Linked DNA regions of Homo sapiens. The protein of the gene in region 3 purifies or fractionates together with the protein of the main gene of each other region. This does not show direct contact. Each region holds a gene or a part of one and is shown on either strand. Other genes may lie near its edges.

Region 1 (3,500 bases), on a different chromosome or scaffold from region 3:
TAAGATTATGCTGCCCTAGAGACAGATGTTAGAAAGCTGTAATATTTAAAAATAAAGAGATAAACACATGGTTGAGAGGAAAGAATAAAATAATTTAGCGTTGAGATAGAATATTAAAAAGAAAAAAGGAAAAGATGGAAAGATAGATTTTATCATACTGTATTGGCACAAGAAATGGCAAATCCTTTCATGTAGGGAAAAACTTTTATATCTGCCTCAGGCAATCATTTACCATTAGGCAGACATTCTTAGAGTGCACTAGGGTAGATCTGTAAGAACTGCTTAGCAGGGCTAATTACGATTACACAGAAAAGACTTACCTCTTGTCACCAGATAAAGTCCAGGCTTTGACTTAAATCCATACACACCAGTTTTCATAAAAGTTTAAACATGAAAAATGTTATATACTTTGGTAATTCACATTCAGTGAACATAAAAACAACATTAAGTAATGATAACTCTGGATTTATCTGGTAACTTTTACTGCAGAGGTCAAGGTACTTTGTCTTCACTTATTTTTACTAGAGAAAAATAATAAAAATAGATTATAATTGTAGGTTATATAAATATTTACAATTGACATACAGTAGCCATGTATTAAGCAAACACATTTTTAAACAGCAGATTCTCCATTTTTGCTAAAATTTTAACACATTTATAAATAAAATGCAAAGAGTAGGAACAGAAAAGTAGAAGGAACTTTGGCTTTGAATTCAAACAGAATTGGGTTCAGATCCAGGATATTTAATTCACTTCTCTGAGCTTCAGTTTCCTCATCTGTAAAACAGGGATAATACTACCTACTTTACAGGGTTGCTGAGAGGGTTAAATATGTAACTAATGAAGGCTCCAGCATTGTGTGTGAACACTGCAGGTACTCAATAAATGCCAAGTGACATAATCACAAAAAAACTAACACAAACAAGCACATTAGAGATTCCAATTTAATTACCGTTTGTCCTTTTCTTAAAATCTCCAAGTTCTGATTGTACAGTAGAAGCTCCTAACTTAACACCTTTTCCCACTGGGAAGGTGATGCCCTCCTCCTCAAAAAAAAGGGAGGGGGGAATAGTATAAAGGAGGAGTTACCAGAGAAAGGAAAAGGAAACTGAATACTTCTTCCAGGAAAGAGGAGGAAGAGGGCATGAGGTCTGACTTCATGGTCCTGACTACTTCACCTCCTCAAGGATGAAAACTCAGGTAAATAATGGTTAAAAAACAAAAACAAAAACTGAAAGCTGGAAATCTTCAAGAGTTTGCCCTGCTTCCTGTTCATCATTCTAAAAGGAGAAAAACTTGCAGGATAACCACACCCAACAGAGGACTACTACAAACAGAATAAAATGGCAGCGTAGTGTGAGTAGGCCAAGAAAGGTTCTGTAATGGCAGGTCTCAAAGTTCCTTGGCTGTTGTGCAGTGGCTCTTGTGTCCAGGTATTCCTTCATGATCCCAGCAGGATATGTGAAAGGTGGTTGTTTATAGAGTTAAGAGTGAGAAGCCATTCTGGTCACTGTGAGATGATCCCCACAGCAGATGCTGCAGAGCAGACAGACTAAGCCAGGGTTCACAGAGTAGATGTGGTTGAGACATGAGGACCTGAAATGCTGTTGAAAAATGAGAAGAAAACAAATGAGAAAGGGAGAGCTATAAGCTCTGACAGCTCTGAAAGAATACTGGTTTAGTTAATGATAGACTGGAACAGCAGATAAAGAAACCCAGTAACTAGTTTGGACTAGATATATCTCCATGGCAGTCAGTGAGAATTCAGATGACTGCACAAAGACCACACACAGATCTGGGGCTCTCTCCCCTCCCTGCCATAAGAACACATGAACCTTTCCTGACATCTAAAGGACATTTCTGCCAGGAGAAAGGGACAGGAAGAACACCAAAAAACTGGGATTTACCCCCAAAGAACCTATTTTAAAACTAAAGAAACTGAGATCATTTTGCTTGTCATCTTTAAATTCTATCTCATCCTACTCCACTCAAAAGAAAATTTATTCCAATTCTAAAGAAATGAAAGGCCTTTTTAGCTCTTGATAAGTTAGATGCAATGTGTCCAACTCTATAAGTCATATTTTCTTTCTGAGGCCTGGACAGGAAACCAAAATAACCATAATGTTTCTTTATTCACAAATTAAAGTGCCCTAATTACATCAGGTAAGAGGAAGTAGGTAATTATATCAGGTAAGAGGAATCATACATACATTATTTTTCTCTCCTTTAAAAAAATTTATTATATGGGTAATTTGAGAGGTCCATTCATTCATTCATTCAATAAATATTTACTCAGTACCTTTTCATCTATCATATGCACACAGAAGTAAATAAGATTGAGGCTGACTATTATGCACAGAGCAGTTAAAAAGCATTTTTGTACAAAATCATTGTTATAGAAAATTCTGTTGCCAGAATAACAAGTGAAGCCAGTTGTAAGAGGTAATACTATGTAAAATCTTATTTTTTAAAGTATATTTGCTATAACAAAAGAGACACAAGATATGGAGGAACAGGTCAGAAAGACTATCATCATTGCCTTTTTCATTTTTGCATGAACAGGCATGCAAAAGAAGTTATATAGCTGTTTTAGTTATCTCAGTAAATACTGCTTGAAAATTTTAAGAAATTAAACTGAAAAAGTCAAATAACACTGTAATAAAGGCTATAGGATAGTTTGTTGTTTAAGAGTATAGGTATTTTTCATAAAGATTCCCTTTAAAATGTTAGTATTATAGTCCTTTTTTTGAGACAGGGTCTTGCTCTGTCACCCAGACTGGAGCACAGTGGTACAATCATGGCTCACAAGAGCCTCAAACTCCTGGGCACAAGTGATCCTCCAGCCTCAGCCTCCTGAGTAGCTAGGACTACAAGCACGCACCAGTATACACCACCACGCTGGCTAATGTTTTTTAGTTTTTGTAGAGACTAGGTCTTGCTATGTTTTCAAGGCTGGTCTTGAACTCCTGGCCTCATGCAAAGCTCCCGCCTTGGCCTCCTAAAGTGCTGGGATTACAGGCATGAGCCGCTGTGCCCACCCCAAGCCCTTAATGTCTTGCTTATTAAGTTCAAAGTTTTACATTATCAGGTTTTCTTAAAGGTGGGCTATGGAAGCCTGACAAATACATGCTATTTGTCGATATGGTGTTATAAACATGAAACAGAATACTATGGCTTTACTTTAAAAAAAAATCCTATAATTTTCCAAAGATATTTATCTATAGAAATGGCATTGTAGAATATTTTCAGAAAGGCTTTTATGGTGGCTCTTTGAATCATTGCCCATTCAAAGAATTTTAAATATTCTATCTAACCTCCTGTACCATAAAGCCCATTGGATTTCATATACTAGAGCATAGAGTACAAAATTTAGGAAAAACCTCTGCTTTTATCAGTTACTTCTGACAAAGTTGGTATTTCAGTCATCCTACATGTACATCATACACTGATTGAAAGGTGACATTGTTAGAGATTATAAATAATTCAACAAATGGCATCTA
Region 2 (3,500 bases), on a different chromosome or scaffold from region 3:
GCCAAGTGATAAGCCAGGACAAGGGCTTCCCAAGCATACAGAGAATAACACTAAGAACAAAGTGTAAGAAGGAAAGAGGGAAAGAAAAGAAAAGACAGGAAAGAGAGAAAGATGGGAAAGGAGAAAAAGGAGAAAGAGGAGAAGGAAAGAAGGGATGGAGGAAAGAAGGAAGGAAGGAAGGGAGGGAAGAAGTGAAGGAAGGGAGGGAGGGAGGAAGGAAGAGAGAGAGACAGAAAGAAAGAAAGAGAGAGAGACAGAAAGAAACAAAAGAGAGAGAGAGAAAGAAAGAAAGAAAGGAAGGAAGGAAGGAAGGAAGGAAGGAAGGAAGGAAGGAAGGGAGGAAGGAAGGAAAGAAGAAGAGAAGAGAAGAGAAAGAAAAGAAAATGGCAGGGCACAGTGGCTCACGCCTGTAATCCCAGCACTTTGGGAGGCCGAGGAGGGCGGATCACAAGGTCAGGAGATTGAGACCATCGTGGCCAACACGGTGAAACCCTGTCTCTACTAAAAGTATAAAAAATTAGCCGGGCATGGTGGCAGGCGCCTGTAGTCCCAGCTACTTGGGAGGCTGAGGCAGGAGAATGGCGTGAACCCAGGAGGCAGAGCTTGCAGTGAGCCGAGATCACGCCACTGCACTCCAGCCTGGGCAACAGTGCAAGACTCTGTCTAAAAAGAAGAAAAAGAAAGAAAGGAAGGAAGGAGAAAAGAAAAGAAGGAAGAAAAGAAAGAAAAGAGAGAGAGAAAGAGAGAGAGAGAAAGCAAGCAAGTGGGAGGAAGGGAGGGAGGGAGGGGGGAGGGGAGGGGGTGGGGGCAGGGTGGAGGCGGGGTGGGGCGGGGGAGGGCAGGGCAGGGCAGGGCAGAATTTGGCACGGAAATTCTCTGATAACCGAAAGAAATCAGTAGTACATCTAGAGTGTAACAATCATCAAGTACTGAGAAAATTGAATGAGATGAGGCTAGAGAGACAGGGAAGGGCAGGCCATATAAATTCTTATACGTCCACAGTGAGGAGTTTGATTTTTTTTTCTTTTGTAGTTGTATTTCCAAATGCAATTAGGAACTTCTGAAGGGATTTAAACAGCAAAGTTATATAATCTGATTTAACATGTTAAAATACTCATTCTGGCTCCTGCATGGAGAATACATTATAATGGAACAACAGTAGGTACAGGCAGATTAATTAGGAGACAAGAAATGATGGTGAGATGAAAAGACCCAGGTTATAGTTTAGATACAGGAACAAAAGAACTTGCTGATGAGCTGGCATGGGACTTGAGGAAAAGGAAGGAATCAAGAAAAACTCACAGGTTATTCAAATAAGCAAATGGACCAAGAAGGAGCCAATTACGGAACAGGAAGGGTAGGAGGCTGCATTAAGTTTTAGTTTGAACATGTAGATTTATGACGTACAACAATAGGCCGGGTGCAGTGGCTCATGCCTGTAATCCCAGCATTTTGGGAGGCCGAGGCGGATGGACTGCTTGAGGTTAGGAGTTCAAGACCAGCCTGACCAACATGGGGAACCCCATCTCTACTAAAAATACAAAAATTTGCTGGGTGTGGTGGCAGGAACCTGTAATCCCAGCTACTTGGGAGGCTGAGGCAGGAGAATTGCTTGAACCCAGGAGGGGGAGGCTGCAGTGACCTGAGATTGTGCACTGCACTCCAGCCTGGGTGACAGAGTGAGACTGTCTTTAAAAAAAAAAAAAAAAAAAAAAAAAAAGATGTACAACAATAACAAAAACATACTGTCAAAATAGCAGTCAGACATCAGGCATAAGGGTCTGGAATTCAGGGTAGAAGATCAGATTGCTGATATATATATTTGTGAGTCATGAATTTACAGGAGATATTAAAAGCTATGAGGAACTGACACAATCACCCAGAGAAAGAGTGTATGTAAAGAGAAGAGAAGAGAGCCCAAACTAAGGGGTTTGATTATAATATTCAGAAGGAGATAGAACAAGAAACACGAACAACAGTTACTGAAAACCCACCAGAATTAATAAGAGTAAATAGGCAAATATGATATCATAGATACCAAGAAAGGAAAGTGTTTCAAGAAGGAGTGACAGCCTATGTTAAATGCAACCGGGTCGAAAAATCTAGTAAGGTACTAACAGAGAAATATCCTTTAAACTGGTGAATGTCACTAGTGACTTTGATTAAAAGTTTCAGAGGAAAAGGGGGTTGAAAAGCAGATGGGGGTTGGTTAATAAATAAATGAAGGATGGCAAGAAAATGGAGAGAGCATCTATCAACAACTCTTCTGAGGATTCTCATTACGAAAGCAGCAGAGAAATAAGGCAATAGCTGAAGGGGAATGTGAGATAATTAAGAGAAAATTTTTAAAGAAAGGAGATAATAAGAGCATGTTAAGGCCAAAAGAAACAATTTGGCAAAAAAAGGCAATGATAATGCAAGAGAAGGGGCGAAATCTTTGAGAAGCTGGAAAGGGATAGCAACTACATTGACTAGCTTTTGATAGGAGCTTTCTGCTTCTATCACAATGTGAGTACAGATGTTGGAAAGCTGGGAAATTATTGACAGTAGGAAAACGAGTACTTTTCATTGTGAATGAAAGGTTAGAATCTGGAAGTGGGGCGGGGATGAAGGGAAGTATTAAAGTTTGAGAGACATGAAAGTGTAAAATAGTCATTTTGTACAGCTGGAGAGCAACAGTGTGAGGCTGCTCTGATGCACAGTGTTGAGCACCCATTGAAATTTGTGGTCATAACTTTCTTCATTATCATTCAGTGATTCCACTGTAGACTAAGAGAAGGCAGACAATTAGGTTCAACCAGAGATGGAGCGTAGCAAATTTTCATATTCCCATTGTCCGTTTCTTTGATATCAGTAAAAATGAGGGAGGACATGTAAAGGGATAAACATTTACATAAAAAGGTATCCACAGCAAGGCAAGCATAGACAGAAGTATACTTTATCATTTTCTCTATCTCTATGCAGGGAAATAATAGAAATCATGGTCCTAAGCTGACATTTCCATCTACTACATTCACCCAATGGACAATTCCCAATATTCACAAACACATTTGGACTTAGGCTATGGCAAATGCAAAAGAGATTGGACAAAAAACAAAAACAGAAACAAATTAAGTCCTTACTCCTGAAACGTTGAACTCCAGAATAATGAAAAAGCTGTTATCAGAACAACTACAGTCATAACCTTCAGATGTTACATCTAACACCAAATCATTTTTCTCAATAGTGATAATGTCTTGATAACATGGAAATATTCTAATTATCTATAGCTTAGTCAACCAAAATTCTCTCAATAATCTCCCAGTTAAAAATATTTCCTTACTTCCTATAAATAATTTATGAGTAAAAGTACTGCATAATGTTTCAATAATCATCACATGACCACCAAAGATATTTTTTCTTCTTCAATAATTCAAATGATTGTCACATTTAATACTTACATTAAATATTGAAAGGAATTTAGCAATTTGAAATGCAGTAATTAAAATGCATTAGATAGC
Region 3 (3,500 bases):
CCCAGCCCAGAGCTATATCAAACTCTGGCCCTCCCCCTCAGCATGGGCTCACTCAGGTTCACATACCTGTATGGACATAAGGAAGTACACACCAAGCTAGCTGATCCCTCACAGGGGGAGGGAATGGAATGGAAACTGAGCTTGTGACCCCAAAGAACACAGTAGCAAAGGCAGGCAAGCCACAGAGACTGCTGGTCTCCAAAATGAAACTGCCTCAGGCCTGCCCTAGGGTTCATGGGTGGGGCAGAAATAACAGCTACCTCATGTCTATAGAGAGCTTTATGATTTTTTTCTAAGCACTTCACATACATCATACACAAAACACAAGACCTCTGGGGCCAGCTTGAGGGAGTTGGGAGTAAAGAGCGACTGCTCCCCTTCTTGTTCCTGCTCCCACTGTACCTAGCTGGGAAGGGCTGGGCTGGGCCAGGCCTGGCGCCTGGAGGAAGGCTCCCTCTGGAGTGGCCCCTGCTTAAGGCTCCAGCGGAAAGCTTTGAAGTGGTCAGAAAGAAGATAACAAAAGCCAGAAACAAATGGACCCAAGTGTTCTCTCTCCTCATAGCTTCCTGGGATTGTCCTGGGCTGGATGTGAGGGCAGGCCCACCCAGCCAGGCTCTCCTCACCTGCTGCAGCCTTCTCAACAAAGTGCAGCTCATGCCAGAAGTTAGCCAGGTCTGGGTATTTCTCCTTCACTGTCAAGGCGATGAAATGAAGCAGTGTCATCTTCCGGTCAGTGGACTTGGTATCCAGCAGCTAGGAGAGGGGGTGAGGGCGGTGCACAAGAGCTAAGCACTCTGGCTCCACAACTGCTGCCCCCCAGGCTTCCTGGCCCACGCTGCCCTCACCATCTTACCAGATCCAGGCTCTGGAGCTTGAAGCCATACACAGCTCCCCGCTTGCTGCTGTTCATGTAGTTCCCCAGTGCAAGTATGATCTGTCCAAAGAATGTGTGGGAGGCAGGTCAGGCTCAGGTCCTGAAGGCTCCTTCTTCCTCTCTGTATAGCCCCAGGCCCCCACCTAGGACCTGAAAACCCCCAGCACCCCTGTTCACAACCTCTTCCCACCTCCAACATCTGCTTCAGCTTCTGTGAAGACTTGACGGAAGCGGACGCCGCAATGATGGCATTGAGTTGCTGTAGGACAATATGAACACTGAAGTAACCCCAGGCTGAGATGGGGTAAAGACAGGGAGGGGTCAGAAGGACTGGAAGGGCAGGGGAGGTGACTAGCAGATGGAGGGTGGAGGGACAGCTGTCCAGAGCCATGAGTTGGGTGGGGGCTGTACCGGTGTGAGCATCTGCAGGTTATCCTGGAAGTTCCCCAGGAAGGCCATGCCAGCCATTCGCTGGGTCAACCGTTCCACCTTGCTGAAGAGCAGCATGAAGCGGTCCTCAGCTGCCAACTCCTCCAGGGGCTGCCGCTCCCGCTCATATTGCCGCAGCAGCTTTACCTCAGCCTCTGTGGGCAGGAAGCGCATCAGGCACTCCACGAAGTCCACAGGTAGTGTCTGCAAGTCAAACCTGTGGAGGAGGGAGGGACCACCTCAGTTCTCACATCTCTCCACGTTTTCCCTCATCCCTTTTATTCTCCAAGCTCCTAGAAGAACTGGACAGGGGACTGTACACGGAACACAGCCAAAGGCAAAGGACCCATTGCATCATCTGTCACAGCACCAGCAATGATCCCGGGGGAACACTCCATGCTCCTGTTTAATAAGCCCTTTGATGTACTCCCACTGTACCTAGGGTGAAGTCCAAACACCTGAGCATGGCTTACGAGGTCCAGCCTGCAAGACTTCTGCCCAACTCTCTACCTTCTCCTGCTCCTCTCCCTACACTAAAGCCAGATTCAATTTTTAGTACCCAAGGCACTATGCTTCTCCCTCCAGGCCCTGAACTGGACTAACTCATATCTTTTCTTCAGGTCCCAGTTGAGACATTACCTCCTCTGGGAAGGCTTCCCTCATTCATCACCAAGCTCAGCTACATGAACCTCCCTATTCTCCCAAAGCTGCCTGTATACTTCTACCATCCTGGTGGTATCACTCAGTGTTACTGCACTGTTCCCAATAGACTGAGAGCTCCTTGGGTGAAGGTCTGGGCTGAACTGCCAGCACAGATGCAGTAAATTCTAGCCAAGCCAGTGGATGACTAGGGGGATGTGAGGGAGTTCTGTCAGATGACCTGGAATCTAGGGAAACCCAGGCTCCTGGGTGGAGAACTGGGTTGCCAACAGACTAGGGACCAGAGCCAGGTCAGTGGGAGCCTCACGTATGAATGGCCCTGCAGATCTCCTCAGCCGAGCGGCCAGCCTTGCGTAGGGTGATGGCCAGGTTCTTGGCACGATTGGCTTCCAACAGAGTCACCTTGCTGGCAGCTTTTTGCGCTGTCTTGTTTTTGGAGCAGATGAGGTCAAGGGCAGGGCCCTGCGCTTTTGTCTTGAATAATTCTTCAAACTTATCAAGATCCAGGTCCTGGCAGGAATAGGTGAGCAAGGAAAACGCTGTAGCCTCATACTAGTGGAGGACCTCATGACAGCCCACCCAGCATTGGCCCAGAGCTCTGTCACTCTGGAATATTTCCTGAATACAAACACAAAGTGTTGACACAACTAGAAATATACGTACACTCAAGAATGAAGGGTTGGTGGAGCTAAGCCTGGCCTCACCCTGTCTGATGGCTTTTCTAAGACCAGAATCTCCTCAAAAGGCAACCAGGTCCCTAGCCCTCAACCTTAGCCCTCTGGACCCCAGGCCCTGTTACCTCCAAGATCTTCTCATCATCAAGTTCGCTGAAGACAGTGCCACTGATCTGGTTGGGTTTCAGTGCTGTCCAGTTGAAGACAGGCAGCCGGAACTTGGTCTTGATAGGTTTCTTAATTCGAATGGCTAATTTGGAAGGAGGATCAGTGACACAGGGGCCAAGGACACACACCCCTGGTCCCACCAGCCCTGCCCAGAGCCCTGGGGATACTCACCTGACAGGCCCACTGTCAACACCACAGAGGGTGCAGCACCAGGGAGAGGTGGGGCTGGGGGACACTTGTCTGGGGGAAGAAGAAATGACACAGTGACCCAGGCGTCAAGAGACTCTTCATAGGCTTCCCTCCCCTCTGCCTGTCCCACCTTCTCTGAGAGTTAAAAAAAAAAAAAACTCTCAGAGAAGGAGCCTACATGAACTCTGCTCAAGCTGCTCCCAGAAATCTAACTCTGACAGGGCAGTTGTTGCTGGTCTCTGACCCAGTTTCTATGGCTACAGTCTAAGCCTCTCCTTGGCTGTCTTCAAAGGAATTGGGAGCAACATCTTTATGATCCTTAAAACAGGTCCACATCTGCCTTTGGGCATCCCTGTGCTGATAACTTGAGCTTCCCTCAGATTCCAGGCCTCCCTCACCCTGATTTTATATCCCTCCAAGTCCTCAGATAATGCCATTTTCCCAGCTTCTCCCTGAGGAAGACACTGCTGACTACAGTTTTGGTCCCCACAAAGAGGCTGCCCCTG
Region 4 (3,500 bases), on a different chromosome or scaffold from region 3:
ATCAAAATCTAACAGGAAAAAAAAAAATCAAAAGAAAAGGAAGAGGAAGAGGAAGCCAGAAGAAAAACACTAAACTCAATATAGGCAGGCAAAATTATACAAAGAGGCGGTAAGGAACTACGTGGTCTGTTGCTTCCCACAGTCATGGAGGATGCGGGTGTGGCCGGGTGGGGAAGTCTCCCTGGGACTCACCTCCATCAGAGCCATAGCTGGGGCATGCCTGAGCCCCACGCCCCCTACACCCCTAAAGCAATTTTCTTACACCATGAAAGCAGCCTGAGCAACTGTGGTATGACCCAAACGACTGAGTAGCTTTCTCCCTACTCCCTGCAGCATGGCTGCATTGCTGTTGGCAAGATGGATCATGGCCACAAAATGAAGAAAACTTGTATGAAAACAGACTAGTTTGGGGCACCTTATAACCAAAAGCTAATAACCTTTCTTACACTTTTTCCCCAAATCTATCTTTCTAAAATTACTACCCATAAATTTCTACAGGTCGAGTATCACTTATCCAAAAGCATTTCAGATTTAAGATTCTTTGGATTTTGGAATATTTGCACTATACTTAACAGCTAAGCATCCCAAATCTGAAAATCCGAAATCCAAAATGCTCCAATAAGCATTTCCTTTGAGTATCATGCCATCACTCCAAGAGTTGCAAATTTTGGAATATTTTAGATTTCAGAATGTCTGGTTAGGGGTACTCAACCTATAGTACATTCTTCTACCCAAAATCTAGCACCAATCCCAATTTGAAATGATAGCATTTGCTTTCTGCCCAAAGCCCAATGGGGCCAGTATTATCACTGTATCCAAAACTTAAGATGAATGATAACATGGTCAATGACTACACCTCAGATTTCAGAAAACCGTTTTCTAACAAGACAATACATGAAGATTTATCCTACCCGAAGTCTTCTGTGGAGTGTCTTTATTTCTCTTTCCATGTCGTGCTTTTGGTCCTGGAGTTTTTTAACTGTATCTGAAAAGATCACCAAAGTTTAAATATCTATTCTCACAACAATCTTCAGAGTAATAATACAAAGAAAAGGGATACTTAAATATGACATTCGAAAAAAGTTATCCTGTCCAAAGACTATAAAAAATTTTAATACAAAACTTTAACAGAAAAAATGTTAAATTCAAGTAATAACAAATATTACTTTCTTTGGAAAATATCAAGTTAAAAATCACAATTTCTAAATCACTTCCTTCCACAGTATCTTAATTTTGAAACAAAAAGTAAAACCGTTAGAAATTCACTTTGTTGGTACATAACCAATCAAAACAATATTGACTGTGACTACAATATGAACTTTTAATCACAAGTATTATTAATCTGCAGTATTTATATAAGCATAGCTTTCCTTACACACTGGAATAAATTCCAGAAAAGAAGTGAATTAGTAAAATCAAAATTAGTAAAAAATATAATACTCAGGGTAGCTGCTGTTTCAATTAATTCTATAAAAATCTTTTTAAAAAATAAAGAATATATTTATAAAGTAAATCAATAATTCCTCAAATTATTTATCCGATAATGTGAATTTTCTTAGAACAATTTCATTCACTCTAAAAACATTCAATGAGCACCACCAATAAGATGCAAAGTACCATTCTAGATAGAGTGAGGATACAAGGATGAAAGTGTAGCACAGGCTAGTCTCCCTGGAACCAGAAACGTAAAGGGAAGTCACCTTCTCTTTGGAGGTTCTACTCTAAAATCCATGCATAAGAGATAAATGACTTAGGAGGGTGCTATGCTGATAGCTGCCACTAAGTAAACCGCTTACGGCTGTGTTACTTTGACAGCTCAGGAACCAATCACTTTTTGGTTAAGGGCAAGAAAGGGTACTTACACAACTGGTGGCAAATCCTTTACCCTGATTTACCTACAGCCCCACCCCAGTAGATCCCTGGCTGTTGTGTGTGTTCCAAGTGTGTCTTACACAGCCTTGTACCATGTTGCCGCCAATATTACCACATCTCGACACATCTGTCTCGACCACTAGACTAAAAACACTTCAAAGGCAGAAGAAGCCATGTGATGACCTCACAGACTCAGTAGTTGGAATATGGTATCTTTAAAATGGAATAAATTTATAAATGTGCCAGCTAATGGTAGCAGTAATAAAAAGTAATGCTGAAATCGTTACCTAGGTTTTTGTTTTTTTTTTAATAAGTATCCTATTGACAGAACTTAACGATTTATCATTAGGGAAAACATAACTATAGACATTAGTGTTTCTGGGTAAATAACATTCTCTCCCATTCCTTATACTTAGTAGCAGGAATTCAGGCATAGTGAACACCTGCTTGCAATGACACATGTAATCAAAAAATTCTTCCTCTAGCTAACACTTTATTGGCTTTTAATTAGGACCCTAAAGTATGAGTATGCTGATGTTCTTTCTTTCTTAGATGGCTCATCATCTTCTTTACCCCTGTTCCACTAGAACCTTCTCTTCTAAAATTTTTTTGCCATTATGCTTTACATTTGATGTTGGTATATGTGTGTTCTGATGTTTTTTTTTTTTTTTTTTTTTTTTTGAGACGGAGTCTCAATCTGTTGCCCAGGCTGGAGTGCAGTGGCATGATTTCAGCTCACTGCAACCTCTGCCCCCTGGGTTCAAGCGATTCTCCTGCCTCAGCCTCCTGTGGAGATGGGATTATAGGCGCCTGCCACCACGTCCAGCTAATTTTTGTATTTTTAGTACAGACGGGGTTTCACCATGTTGGCCAGGCTGGTCTTGAACTCCTGACCTCATGATCCACCCGCCTCGGCCTCCCAAAGTGCTAGGATTACAAGCATGAGCCACTGCACCCAGCCAGTGTTCTGGTATTTTTAAATGGCATGAATTCACTTTAACAACATAGAGCCTAGAATATTTACAACAATTATATGTGGAATAATAATTATTACAAATAAATAATAATGCTGTATTTTCTAAAGCTGGATCAGAAATAAATGGGATAAAACGTTGGCGGCAGGGGCAATTCTGGTAGGCAGTAGTTAACTTGCTCTCATTCACTGCCCCAAAACTGTGTAACAAAGTCAGGTCCTGTGAAATAAAAAGGTTCAAAATTTACTCTTTAATTTGATAAATGTGTCATATGTACCAACTTTGTACCAGGCTTTTTTCTAAGTGCTTAAGATGTAAAGGAAAGGAAAGATATAATCTTCATCCTCTTAGAGACAGAAAGGCTAGTCTTGTGTTGAGACAACAAGGGTAGATGACTTCATAAGCAAAAGATTAAACTTTAAAGCCTGTCTCACACATAAGGTACTTCAGACTCAACCTGCAAACGAAGAGTCAAACAGGCCATCTAATCTGGTTTGGGTAAAGCAGACACCAAGCTGAGTAGACGAGTCTAATGCCCTGATCCTTATCTCTGGAGGCAAGGATGGCTCTGGAATCAGCAAGGGAACTTGGTTCCTTGCGACCTCACACATAGACAAATTCAGGGTTTTGGACATAAGACGAGGAGTAAGGACA

What was found. The genes of interacting proteins can lie anywhere in the genome.
Region 1: the proteins of FMNL3 (region 3) and NAA11 purify together in Homo sapiens (affinity purification with mass spectrometry; one large-scale study listed by BioGRID and IntAct). This does not show direct contact.
Region 2: the proteins of FMNL3 (region 3) and DCAF6 purify together in Homo sapiens (affinity purification with mass spectrometry; one large-scale study listed by BioGRID and IntAct). This does not show direct contact.
Region 4: the proteins of FMNL3 (region 3) and SPECC1L purify together in Homo sapiens (affinity purification with mass spectrometry; one large-scale study listed by BioGRID and IntAct). This does not show direct contact.

Annotation. Positions count from the first base shown.
Region 1 is NC_000004.12:79,316,188-79,319,687, forward strand, and holds the end of NAA11 (N-alpha-acetyltransferase 11), read right to left. Parts: intron 1,605-3,500; 3' UTR 460-1,604; downstream 1-459.
Region 2 is NC_000001.11:168,006,183-168,009,682, reverse strand, and holds part of DCAF6 (DDB1- and CUL4-associated factor 6), read right to left. Parts: intron 1-3,500. UniProt on the Homo sapiens protein: Ligand-dependent coactivator of nuclear receptors. Enhance transcriptional activity of the nuclear receptors NR3C1 and AR. May function as a substrate receptor for CUL4-DDB1 E3 ubiquitin-protein ligase complex.
Region 3 is NC_000012.12:49,648,406-49,651,905, forward strand, and holds part of FMNL3 (formin-like protein 3), read right to left. Parts: intron 3,046-3,500; coding exon 2,977-3,045; intron 2,888-2,976; coding exon 2,763-2,887; intron 2,474-2,762; coding exon 2,271-2,473; intron 1,521-2,270; coding exon 1,286-1,520; intron 1,134-1,285; coding exon 1,065-1,133; intron 935-1,064; coding exon 854-934; intron 754-853; coding exon 624-753; intron 1-623. UniProt on the Homo sapiens protein: Plays a role in the regulation of cell morphology and cytoskeletal organization. Required in the control of cell shape and migration. Required for developmental angiogenesis.
Region 4 is NC_000022.11:24,326,331-24,329,830, reverse strand, and holds part of SPECC1L (cytospin-A), read right to left. Parts: intron 986-3,500; coding exon 912-985; intron 1-911. UniProt on the Homo sapiens protein: Involved in cytokinesis and spindle organization. May play a role in actin cytoskeleton organization and microtubule stabilization and hence required for proper cell adhesion and migration.